2 separate regions of the Homo sapiens genome follow, and region 2 is linked to region 1. The links come from fine-mapping of genetic effects on gene expression. Tissue or cell type: lymphoblastoid cells. Region 1 holds a variant in brackets; the other region holds the start of a gene. All regions are shown on one strand. Distances are from middle to middle. Region 1 has its middle 51 kb from the start of RASGEF1B. Region 2 holds the start of RASGEF1B (RasGEF domain family member 1B).

Region 1 (5,264 bases):
TTCTATCTCCATCTTATCTGCAAGTCACTTTAGAAATATCATATAAAAAGCAGATTTGTCATGTAATCTAGCAAAGGGAACTCCTTATGAATTTGTACTTTGGCCATTCTCTGTTATTTTTATCATTGATATGCAACATGATTAGTCAAGGCTCTGCAAAACTGAAAGAACCTTCTGAATTATTACACATGAAATTTTCAAAAGCATTTTAGGTCACATTTTATTTATTGAATATTGGTTATCCATGCCCTGTATACATGGTTACTCTCTTGCAACCATAATATTCCAACCAATCAATCCAACAGGAAATGTCTATTAAATAACTAGCATGTGCTCATCCTAGCATTGCTTTATTAACCAGAACACCACACCTCTGAGCATACTAAATGCTGAGAACTTGCTGTCTTAGTGACAACTATGAAATATCTGTTAGTCTGAAATTACTTTTATGCAGATGCCACTAAATGGCTGAAGAAAAGAGGGTGAAGGCTGGTTAACATTCATATCAGTTCTCATACCTTCATGACACTGCCTCTTCTCAGAGGCTTATACCTCCTTTCTGTGCATGATTATTCTTGTCAAAACTCTAATTGTTTTTTCCTCATTTAAGTGAAACATGGTAGAAAATTTTGCCTGAGATATATGTGTCTTTTTTCCTCTCATTTACATTATGTGTTAATAAAAGAGCAATTAGGAAGTACAAGGTTGAAGGGAGAAAAATTAATTCCCAATTATTTCGTATATTTCATCACTAAAGGTAACCACTGTTAATTGTAGCATTTATATTTTTTCATGTGTTTTTTTTTTTAACACACAATCACACACAACAGTGATCTGAAACTGTCAATAGTGGTAACTAGAAAAAGAACAGCTCAAGCTTATAAAAGTGACATCTATAAAAAACATACCAAAAAGAAAAAAAAAGAAAGAAAAAAAACCTAGCCTCTAGGGTAAAGGTTAACAACTGAACTGTCACTTAGTGTTGATGACTTGCTTTCTCCTAAGCTTAGAACTTTCAGGGAATGAGTTTATGATCCCAGGCAGCTTTCTCAGCAGAGGGGAGGGTGCCTAGTTAGACCTAATTACTACATTTTGTTTCACATTCCCACTTAAACAGCTAACCTTTTTGTCCAATAGGTCTGGACTCTGGCAACCATAGCTTGAACTGACTGCACTGTTCTTTCTCTAAATGGCCTTTTGTGTGTGGATAATGACCCCACTCTCTTGAATAGGGTTTCTCTCTACATGCTGTAGCTAAATGGAAAAAACAAAACAAAGAGAAACTGCAGTAAAATGGCCCATAATGGCCTCCTGGGATGGGGGTAGGCTAGACTCTCAGACTTTCACACTTTCCTTCTTCTAAAGTTTCGTAGAGAATAATGCTATACCTCAGAGCAGGGGGACTGCACCTTATGGGATTTTGGCCATGTTCTGGTTTGCGGTTTGAAAGACAAGCTGTCATGAAGTTAAAGGCTGCCTGGGTCTTCTGGGTGGAAATACTGCTCACTTCTTCATCCAGTTGACTGAATCAGAGCCTGCCTCAGAATAACTGCTCAGAAATAGGAATTTCTTCTTGGTCAACCCCAGGCTTTGAAGGGCCTTTGGTCATTCTTGCCCTTGTGCTACAGTTCTGCTGCGATAATCTGAATTTGCCATGTTCGTGGTGCTGGGAAATCAGATGAATGAAAGCTCTTAGAAACCCATCTCCTGACTCTACTTTATGTATCAAGGTTTAGAATTATCAGAGCAGAACCTGGTGTTTGCCCCTGTGGTCCCAGCTCCTTGGGAGGCTGAGGTGGGATGATCACTTGAGTCCAGGAGTTTGAGGCTGTAATGAGCTGTGGTTATTTCACAGTACTCCAGCCTGGATGACAGAGTGAGACCCTATCTCCATCTGTTAAAAAAAAAAAAAAAAAAAAAAAAAAGGTAAAATTATCAGAATGAACTTTTTTGTCCATTCGAGTAACAGGAGTTACAGTGTCAAAGCTTGCAAAACTTTAGGCCAGATTTTGACCCACCTATTTAACATTTCAAAATAATTAAAAGCATATGTACGTATCCCTGTAGTCATCATGGATTCCATTATCTCCATGGAACTTAAAGTAAGGTAATTTTAAGGTCTAAAGAAAATATGTGTTAGTGAAGCCTCCGTACCTAGTCTAATTGACTGACTACCATCTCCTCCACTGTGTCTTTTGGTTCTCCTCCCTTATGTAAGAGCACCTTGTAAATTATTGGACATTATATAAATACTAGTCAGTGTGAGCTAGTCACTCACCCTTTTCTCCTGTACTGAACTCCCTCCATTACACCACATTTACTCAGTACTTACTAATTCCATCCTACCCGTTTCTTCCACCTCATCCCCTGGGTATTTTAGTAGTTTCATTTAATGAAGTAATAACCCATAGTGGGTTAATAAAGGGCAGTTAGGGATGCTAGGGTACAGCCCTTTGAAGATTTTTAAGGTACTTTTCCAAGGTGATTTATTAACTCCTTTTGGGTGCCTGATCTTAGAAAAGGGATATGATAATACACATCTTCTTTACTCAAACTACTAAAGATATAGGTGTGGCATGTGTGTGTGTGTGTGTGTGTGTGTGTGTGTGTGTGT[T/GTGTT]TAGTATTTTTTAAGAACAGCCTCTGCATAAGCAGGAGAGGAAGAACTGGAGTGGAAACATGCACAGAGGAAACTGAGGAGATTGTTTTCTATTATTGACTAACCTTGTAAGGGGAGACAAATATTAGCTATTACCCTATATTAATTGAACATTAACTTAATATGACAATTTTTGTTTCATCACAAGAAATTCTGAATAGGTCTTCAGCATATTACAGTTTTACAAAATGCTATCTGTTTTAAAAATCAAGGAAAAATGAAGTTTGAAGAAAATTCAGAAGAGCAAACTTGTTCTCTACGAAGGTGTAGTCCAGTCATTTGTGTAGACTCCTAGTCTTCCCAGAAGATTTTTTGAGGCGAGTTCAGTTTTGCCCAATAGCTTTGGGCTGCAGCTGCTGAAGGTGAGAGTGGTACCAAAGAAAAATACTGACTGCCTTATAAACCTTGATTTTTACACATGGATGAAGTGCCTTTTGACTCTATTGAACTGATGTGATTTAGTGTTTATGATCCATACGAGAATCTGGAAGGTGATTAAAGTTTCTAACACTATAGATTGATATATTTTAGAGTAACACTCTTCCTCTTAAGTGCTCTTTGTTGGTCTATAGATGTGTTCTCATCAGTTGAACCATTTGCTAGTGGCCTGGATCAGTGCAGATAGGCTTGGAACACTTTCAGAGCAGAAGCTAAGTATCGTGAATGCTAAGAGAAAGAAGGGTCAGAGACTAGTGGCAGGCAGCCACCATTAGATCATTACTGATGAAATAGTCAGTGAAACTCTCTATCACTTTGCCATGGGGAATTCATTCATTAATGTAGTCACAACTCTTTACTGAGCATTTCTTATTTGCTAGACATGGTCTTAGGGTCCAGGGCTACAGAAGATAAATAAACAGGTGATCACTACCCTCAAGAGGTCACATTCCACTGGTAGAGTTGGAATTGTAAGCAGATTCATTACAAATAACAAAATAATAGCTCTCACTTATTTCAAGTGAGTTCCTGCCACTGTTCTAAGTAATTTGCGTGCATTAGCTCATTTAATCTCACAACAACTCTGCAAAGTAAGTATTATTATTATCTCATTTCTACAGATAATTGAACCAGGGCACAAGGAGACTTTTGTACTTGTTCAGGTCACACAGTAAGTGATGGAGCCAGGATTACAACCTGCCCTTCCTTACAACCTGCTCTTCCTTACAACCTCTGACACCATATTCTGAAAGAGGTATAAAAAATGGATCAGGAATTTCTTAATAGAGATTTGCATTGCTTTAAAACCTTTGTTTTATTCCTGTCTATCATATATAACTATTATTAAGAGTTTGGTGAATTTCCTTTCATCTTTCTTTGCAATGGGTTTGCTGCTTTTTTAAAAAAGCATAGTTGTGATTAAATACAGGTTGCATATACAGGTTGAACATCCTAATCTGAAAATTCAAATCCAAAATGCTCCAAAATCCAGAACTTTTTGAGTGCCAACATAATGCTACAAGTGGAAAATTCTATGCCTGATCTCATATGATGAGTCCCAGTGCAAACTACGTCAAAACTGTTTCATACACAAAATTGTTTTAAAATGTTGTGTAAAATTACCTTCAGACTACGTGTATGTGGCGTATATAAGACATCAATAAATTTTGTGTTTATCATAGAATTGGGTCCCATCCTTGAGATATCTCATTATGTATATGCAAATATTCCAAAACCTGAAAAAATTCAAAAATCTGAAATGTTTCTTTTCTGAAACATTTCAGATAAGCGATACTCAACCTGTACAATTTTTAACATGTAATTCCGAAGTTTGTCTATAGGTTTTGAATATTATTAAGCAATGACAGAAGTCCTTGAAAATCATTGTTTAAGGGCTTTCATAACCCAAAAGATGCTATTTTTTAAGTACATTAAAAAAAACTAAGTCCGGAGAGAAGAATTTACTAGATAAAGCATATATTATGATAATAACTTACTTTTAAGAACCATCATGAAGGCTCACTTACATATTGAAATAGCCACAAAGCTCGGGTATCAAAATGATATTTTAACTTGATATCTTCTTGTTACTTAGCCTCTCAAGTTAAATTGGTGTTTCAGAATTGTAAATGCATTTAAAATTGTAGAAATTTTCAACAAATATTCAACAAGAACTCAGTCAGAATAATGTTTCCCATATACCAATTTTATTTAAAAATTAGAAATGGGGGAGGGGCATAAAAATCATGATTAGCCCCAGTTTTTCCATAAAGTGTATTTCTGTTTACATTTTAATAATGATATAAACAGGAATACTCTGCATTCCATGGGTTGCACATCTCACCTATTAAAAAGGCATATGAAACTCTTGTTGGAAAAATAAGGAAGTGAGTGGGGAAAATGTGCTTCAGACTTTCAAACTGTAGCTACTGGCTTTTGTATCAGAAGTCAATTTTTACATTTGAAACCCCAACTGATCTAAGCAAATTTTTCAGCTTGCAAAGTAATGAGTTTAAAAACGAGTCCCTCCTGTTGTTGCTTGATTTTCTTTCTACTTCAGTTGCTCTTTCAAATAACACGCTGAAATGCTAAGGAAGCAATTTTCAGAAATGCACTGGTAGCTAAATCACAGCTGTATGTTGAGACCGCATGTAGGTGGAATTCACCAGCGTTA
Region 2 (5,499 bases), 51 kb after region 1:
ATATCACAGTGGAGGCTGCAGAACAGCAAAGACTGATCTTTCCTCTGGAAGCTTTGTCCCAGAGGGGCACCTGCCAGATGCCAGCCAGAGCTCTCCTGTAGGAGGTGTCTGTCAGCCCCTACTGGGAGGTGTCCCCCAGTCAGGATACACGAGGGTCAGGGACCCTCTTGAGGAGGCAGTCTGACCCTTAGCAGAGCTTGAACGCTGTGCTGGGAGATCTGCTGTTCTCTTCAGAGCTGTCAGGCAGACGTTTAAGACTACTGAAGCTGCGCCCACAACCGCCCCTTTCCCCAGGTGCTCTGTTCCAGGGAGGCGGGCGTTTTATCTATAAGTCCCTGACTGGGGCTGCTGCCTTTTTTCAGAGATGCCCTGCCCAGAGAAGGGAAATTTGGCAGTCTGGCCACAGCAGGCTTGCTGAGCTGCAGTAGGCTCTGCCCGGTTCCAACTTCCCAGAGGCTTTGTTTACACTGTGAGTGTAAAACTGCCTACTCAAGCCTCAACAATGGTGGATGCCCCTCCTCCCACCAAGCTCGAGTGTCCTGGGTTGATCTCAGACTGCTGCTGTGCTGGCAGTGAGAATTTCAAGCCAGTGGATCTTAGTTTGCTGGGCTCCATTGGGGTGGGACCGGCTGAGCCAGACCACTTGGCTCCCTGGCTTCAGCAACCCTTTCTAGGAGAGTGAACGGTTCTGTCTCGCTGGTGTTCCAGGCGCCACTGGGGTATGGAAAAAAAAAGAACTCCTGTAGCTAGTTCGGTGTCTGCCCAAATGGCCACCCAGTTTTGTGCTTGAAACCCAGGGCCCTGGTGGGGTAGGCACTGGAAGGAATCTCCTGGTTTGTGGGTTGCGAAAACTGGCACAAGCACAGTATCTGTGCTGGAGTTCCTCAGGCTCAGTCCCTCATGGTTTCCCTTGGGTAGAGGAGAAAATTCCCCAACCCCTTGCACTTCTCGGGTGAGGCGATGCCCCACCGTGCTTCAGCTCACTCCCCGTGGGCTGCACCCACTGTCCAACCAGTCCCAGTGAGATGAACTGGGTACCTCAGTTGGAAATGCAGAAGTCACATGCTTTCTGTGTGAATCTCGCTACGAGCTGCAGACTGGAGCTGTTCCTATTCAGCCATCTTGCCAGCAATCCCCTGCAACTCTTAATTTCTGGCTACAGGATCAGTAATGTCAAGGGTGTAAGTGACTGGCCCAATGTCATATGGCTCGTTTGTTACAGAATCGGGATGCAAAAACTGAGCTTGAAAAATCAACCAACCAGTACAACCACAACAGCAGGGCAGGGCCACCCAGCCTCTGTGTTTCACTCTGCATGGCTGGCCCACCAAGTTCCCTTGGCCTTATGGCTTCTCATTTAAACTGCAGAGAAGCTATGGTTAAGTCAAAGGCTCAAGTAGGTTAGAGTGAATTACTGAATCAGAGGAGTCCTATTTACACAAAGGAGGGAAGGAGTATCATAAAGAGGAAGAAAAGTAAAAGGAGGCATAAATGAAGAAAATGAAAGAGGAATCCGCTAAGAATAGACAAAGTGAGCGTCAAAATGACTCCACCCCAGGAAGGAGAGGGGGAGGGACCCATGGAGCAGGAGGGAAAAGGATTCCTCCCCCTCAGTAATCTTAATTATAACAGTATAGGACAGGTATGAATAGTGTTGTTTTATATATGAGAAAACTGAAGCTCAGAAAAGCTGTATCACTTACTCAAGGAAATACAGTTGGTAAGAGTCTCCTAATTCTGTAAATTTTTTCTTTTCATAGGTCTCTTTCTTCCCTTGTTTCCATCATTATTTCCCTCTGGCCTCCTTTTATGTGTACAAAGTGAAGTACGGAGGTTTTTACCTTTTTTCTGAAATAGTTATCAAATATCCCATGATGGAGTGAGTACGTGGTTACCATGACAACACAGCCCTCACTGAGGACTAGCCTCCCTGCTTTGCCTCCGGAATCATGTTTCACGGAACAGGTTCCTCTCCGTGCAACTTCTAGCAGCTGTAATTCTACATTTTGTTTGGGTGATTATTTGCTGAATGTCTGTCCTCCACTAGACTATGTAAGTTTCACAATGGCAGAGACCAGCCTACTTTGCCAAGTGTGCCCCCAGCGTTTTGCACAGTGCTTAGCACCAGGATCTATGTGTTATTTGCTAAGCAAATGTTCTGTGGTTCCTCTCCGCTCTCTTCTGAAAGTTACATGGACAGTAACCTTTAGCTCACAATTATGTTAATAAATACTGTGTAACGAGTCGGGCCGGTATTTACAGATAGTATACACGTGAATGAACACACACACACTCACGACTGCACAACAGCCCGGGGCAGGTGCACTCAAGAGGAAACGCGCACAGTCGGAGCCAGCCTGACCAACGCTGTTAAACACCGCTGCGCTGGGCTCCGCGGGCCTCTGCCGCGTGGGAGGGCACCCAGGCTGACGCGCTGCGGGAGTCTGGGGCCCACTGGGACTTGCCTGCCGGGCCGGGTGGCGGCGGCGTGGGCGGTGAGCTGCGCGGTGATTGGCCCGCGCCTGCCGGGGCGGGGCGGGGCTGGCAGCGGGAGGCAGGCGCCTGAGCCAAGGGGGGCGTGCGCGGCGGCGGCTGCCGTAGTTTCAGTATAAACAAGGAACCCGACTGGTTAGACAGATTTTGTTTTTCTTCTTCCCGCGCGCTTTAGCTCCCTGTCCTTTGGTCGCATTTGTGGGCGCGCGGCACGCAGCCGGGAGGCCGAGGACTCGGAGTTCACCTGCAGGTAGGTTGTTCCCTGGCTGGGTTGTTCTCCCGGCTGGGGGACCACAGCCCGGAGCGGGAACTCCGGACCCTACTGCGCGCTGCGCTCTCCCTGGAGATCCCTGGGCCGCGCGGGGAGCGAGCGGGGCTCAGAGACTTCACCGGCTGCCGGGTGCGCTCCGAGGCGGCGGGAGATCCCGAGGCGAGTGAGCGCGAACGCGGGCGCCAAGAGCCGAGTTACAGCCCGGGACCGGGGGAGGGCCCCTGCCCGGCCGCTGCGGGTACCTGGGACTGCCGCGGCCCCAACAGGTGCGAGGCCGAGCCGCTGGGACCCGGGCAGGGCCAGGCTTGGGTTGGGTTGGGTTGTGCCTTCCCTCTTTCTCCCTGATCCTGCAGCCAGGCCTTCTGTCTCGAGATAGGTGGTTTTTGAGGATTTGTCTTGAGTTGTAATCGCGTCCATCATTTTTTTCATCCCTTCTTTCCTTCGTGTGCATACCTAGGTTGATTCTTCCACTTCTTGACCAGTTTTGTGTGCGTGTGTGTGTAGGGGGAGCTGTTTATTTTTGTTGTCAGTGCCATGTAATCTAAAGTCTGACTCGTAGGAAGGGACAAGGGAACAGAAGTCACATACTCGCCACCGACAAGGTGATGTGCTGTCATCCTTCGGTGTTCACCTGGCAAACTTGGGAGACACTGAGTCGCCTTGCTTTTGCCAGAGCTCAGTTGAGTCGCCTCGGGTCACCTGCCTGGGGAATCTCAGATGAGCTAGAGGTATCTAGGAGCCTCGCGGGCAGTCAGCTTAAGGGAGGTTCTTTCTAAGGGAGCTGTGAAAACAACTTAAGTGCTGCACCAGGGAAAAGGGCGAGACGGGGGCTGGGGTGCGCGCGCCTTTGTGTGTGTGTATGGACGTACCATTTCAATACTGCTTGCTGTCTTGCCCCAACCAAATCGGCGCAGTTCAGGCAAAAGCAACGTAGCTTAATCCTCTGACACTGCCGAGGGTGGCACAAGTGTGGCAGATAACACAAGGAGATTGTCTAGACGGCGATTTTCTCTTCGGAATGTAGATGTGTCCATCCTCCCTGATGAATTCGGTGGATATGGTGTATATAGATGAATATGCACACAAATTTGTGTATGTGTTTGGGCCGAACGCGTCTCCAAGGAGTCCTTCGTCAGCACCATGTGACGACGGTCAGGAACTGCTGGTGTGTGTAGATCTATATTTAGCTCAGATGGTCTAATGGCCGAAGGGAGGGTCTCTGAACTGGGTGCATAAAGGGGAAGAGTCTAGGGATCAGGGTGGTGCACTCTTGAATGATGTCTGGCACAGTCACACTCAGATGGGGTGAATAATTGCCCTTTCCTCGTGAAAACAGTAGCTAGAGCTTGGCATGTGATGGCTATGCCTTAATTTAAAACATAGTTGGACCATGGCGATAAGCCTCTGCTAAGAAACAAGGAGGTTTACAGTTAAGCAGCGTATATACCTGGTTGGCCGTTTGGGTGAAAATAACTGGTCCCATGAGATTTAGAACAAATATAGAGTTGCTTTCTTTAATAAAAAGAAATAAAAATTATTTGCTGTTGAGGTTTTCATAACAGAAAAAAAGAAGGCAGCTTGTTAAACCCTATCATTAAAGGTAATTTTATTTTTTTAAGTGAGGGGCAGTGGTGGAGCTAGAGAGGAGGACCTTAGGGCACTTTTGACAGATATCAGGGTTTACAAACAGCGTTATATTATGCCTCTCAAGCAGATTTTCTGGTGAAGATGAGATCAGCCACTGATTAACAAGTTTCTTGTTGGCATTCTTCCACTGCATGTCGGGTCAATCCTTTGTTTTCTTGGAGGTGGGCAACATTTCTAACTACTAAGCATATTGGCCTTGTACTTTCCAGTTGTCTAACGAAGTGTTACATTCTTAGAATTTATTTCTCCTATGGTGCATTTTCAGTCTTGCTTCATTTTATGTGCTCCACTGGATATTTTATCTGATACTAACACATCTAATACCTGGGAATCATACTGTCTTTTGGAGAAGAGAATCACCAGAAAGCATTCCCATGTATTGTCTCCCGCTAACCCCCTACAGCTTAGCATCTAATAGATTATTTATATGTGTGTGTGTGTGTGTGTATATATACACATATATGTACATATATACATATGTATTTATATGTATAACTAAATCAAAGTATTATAATAACACATAGTTCTTATATAACATTTTATTCTTAGAACCTAAAATTAACTACTAGTTAATAGAGTACAATAGACTATATAAAAACAATTCAATACACCTTTCTAAGGAAAAAGACATGGTAAGAAAATTGAAGGGGAGGAGCTGGGATCCCTAGTATGACTCAGGAGTGTTGGGATCAGCTTTGTCAATATCCGCAGAGTACCTGGAAGAATTGGACTTGGGAGGAACATTGGGATAGCCCCAGGAGAGCACCTCCTTGGAAAGGAGATGGGTGAATGGAATGTCTTTTTCTTTGCTTGGGAGAAGAATCTAGAATCCTTGAAGCAGGGATTGGGAAACTTGATTCTGATGCCACACATAATAAATGAAAAAGCTGTGAAAACATTTTGTGACTTCTTAAAGAGGCCAATTGCACTGTTAAAAATGCTGTTTAAGATTTATGGGATTTTTATTAGTAGTAGTTGAATTCAGGTATTGCCAGCCCACCCCCCTCACTTTTTCAGACCTATAGTTGTCCTTTTTGATTCTCCAGTTAAAACTACAAAAAAGATCCATGCAACCTTTGCTTATCCTA

Evidence for each region. PIP is the estimated chance that this variant, and not a neighbour inherited with it, causes the effect. A credible set is the group of variants that fine-mapping cannot tell apart.
Region 2: RASGEF1B starts here. The variant in region 1 is the best candidate, but not a certain one, in a credible set for the expression of RASGEF1B in lymphoblastoid cells (TwinsUK, PIP 0.84).

Annotation. Positions count from the first base shown.
Region 1 is chr4:81,519,993-81,525,256 of GRCh38, reverse strand. No RefSeq gene overlaps it. Among named protein-coding and RNA genes, the nearest start is that of RASGEF1B, 51 kb to the right of the region's middle. The variant T/GTGTT (reference allele first, on the strand shown) is at 2,615.
Region 2 is chr4:81,469,014-81,474,512 of GRCh38, reverse strand. It overlaps RASGEF1B (RasGEF domain family member 1B), which reads left to right and starts at 2,606. Exons shown (of 14, transcript NM_152545.3): 1 at 2,606-2,743. RefSeq lists a silencer at 2,265-2,674.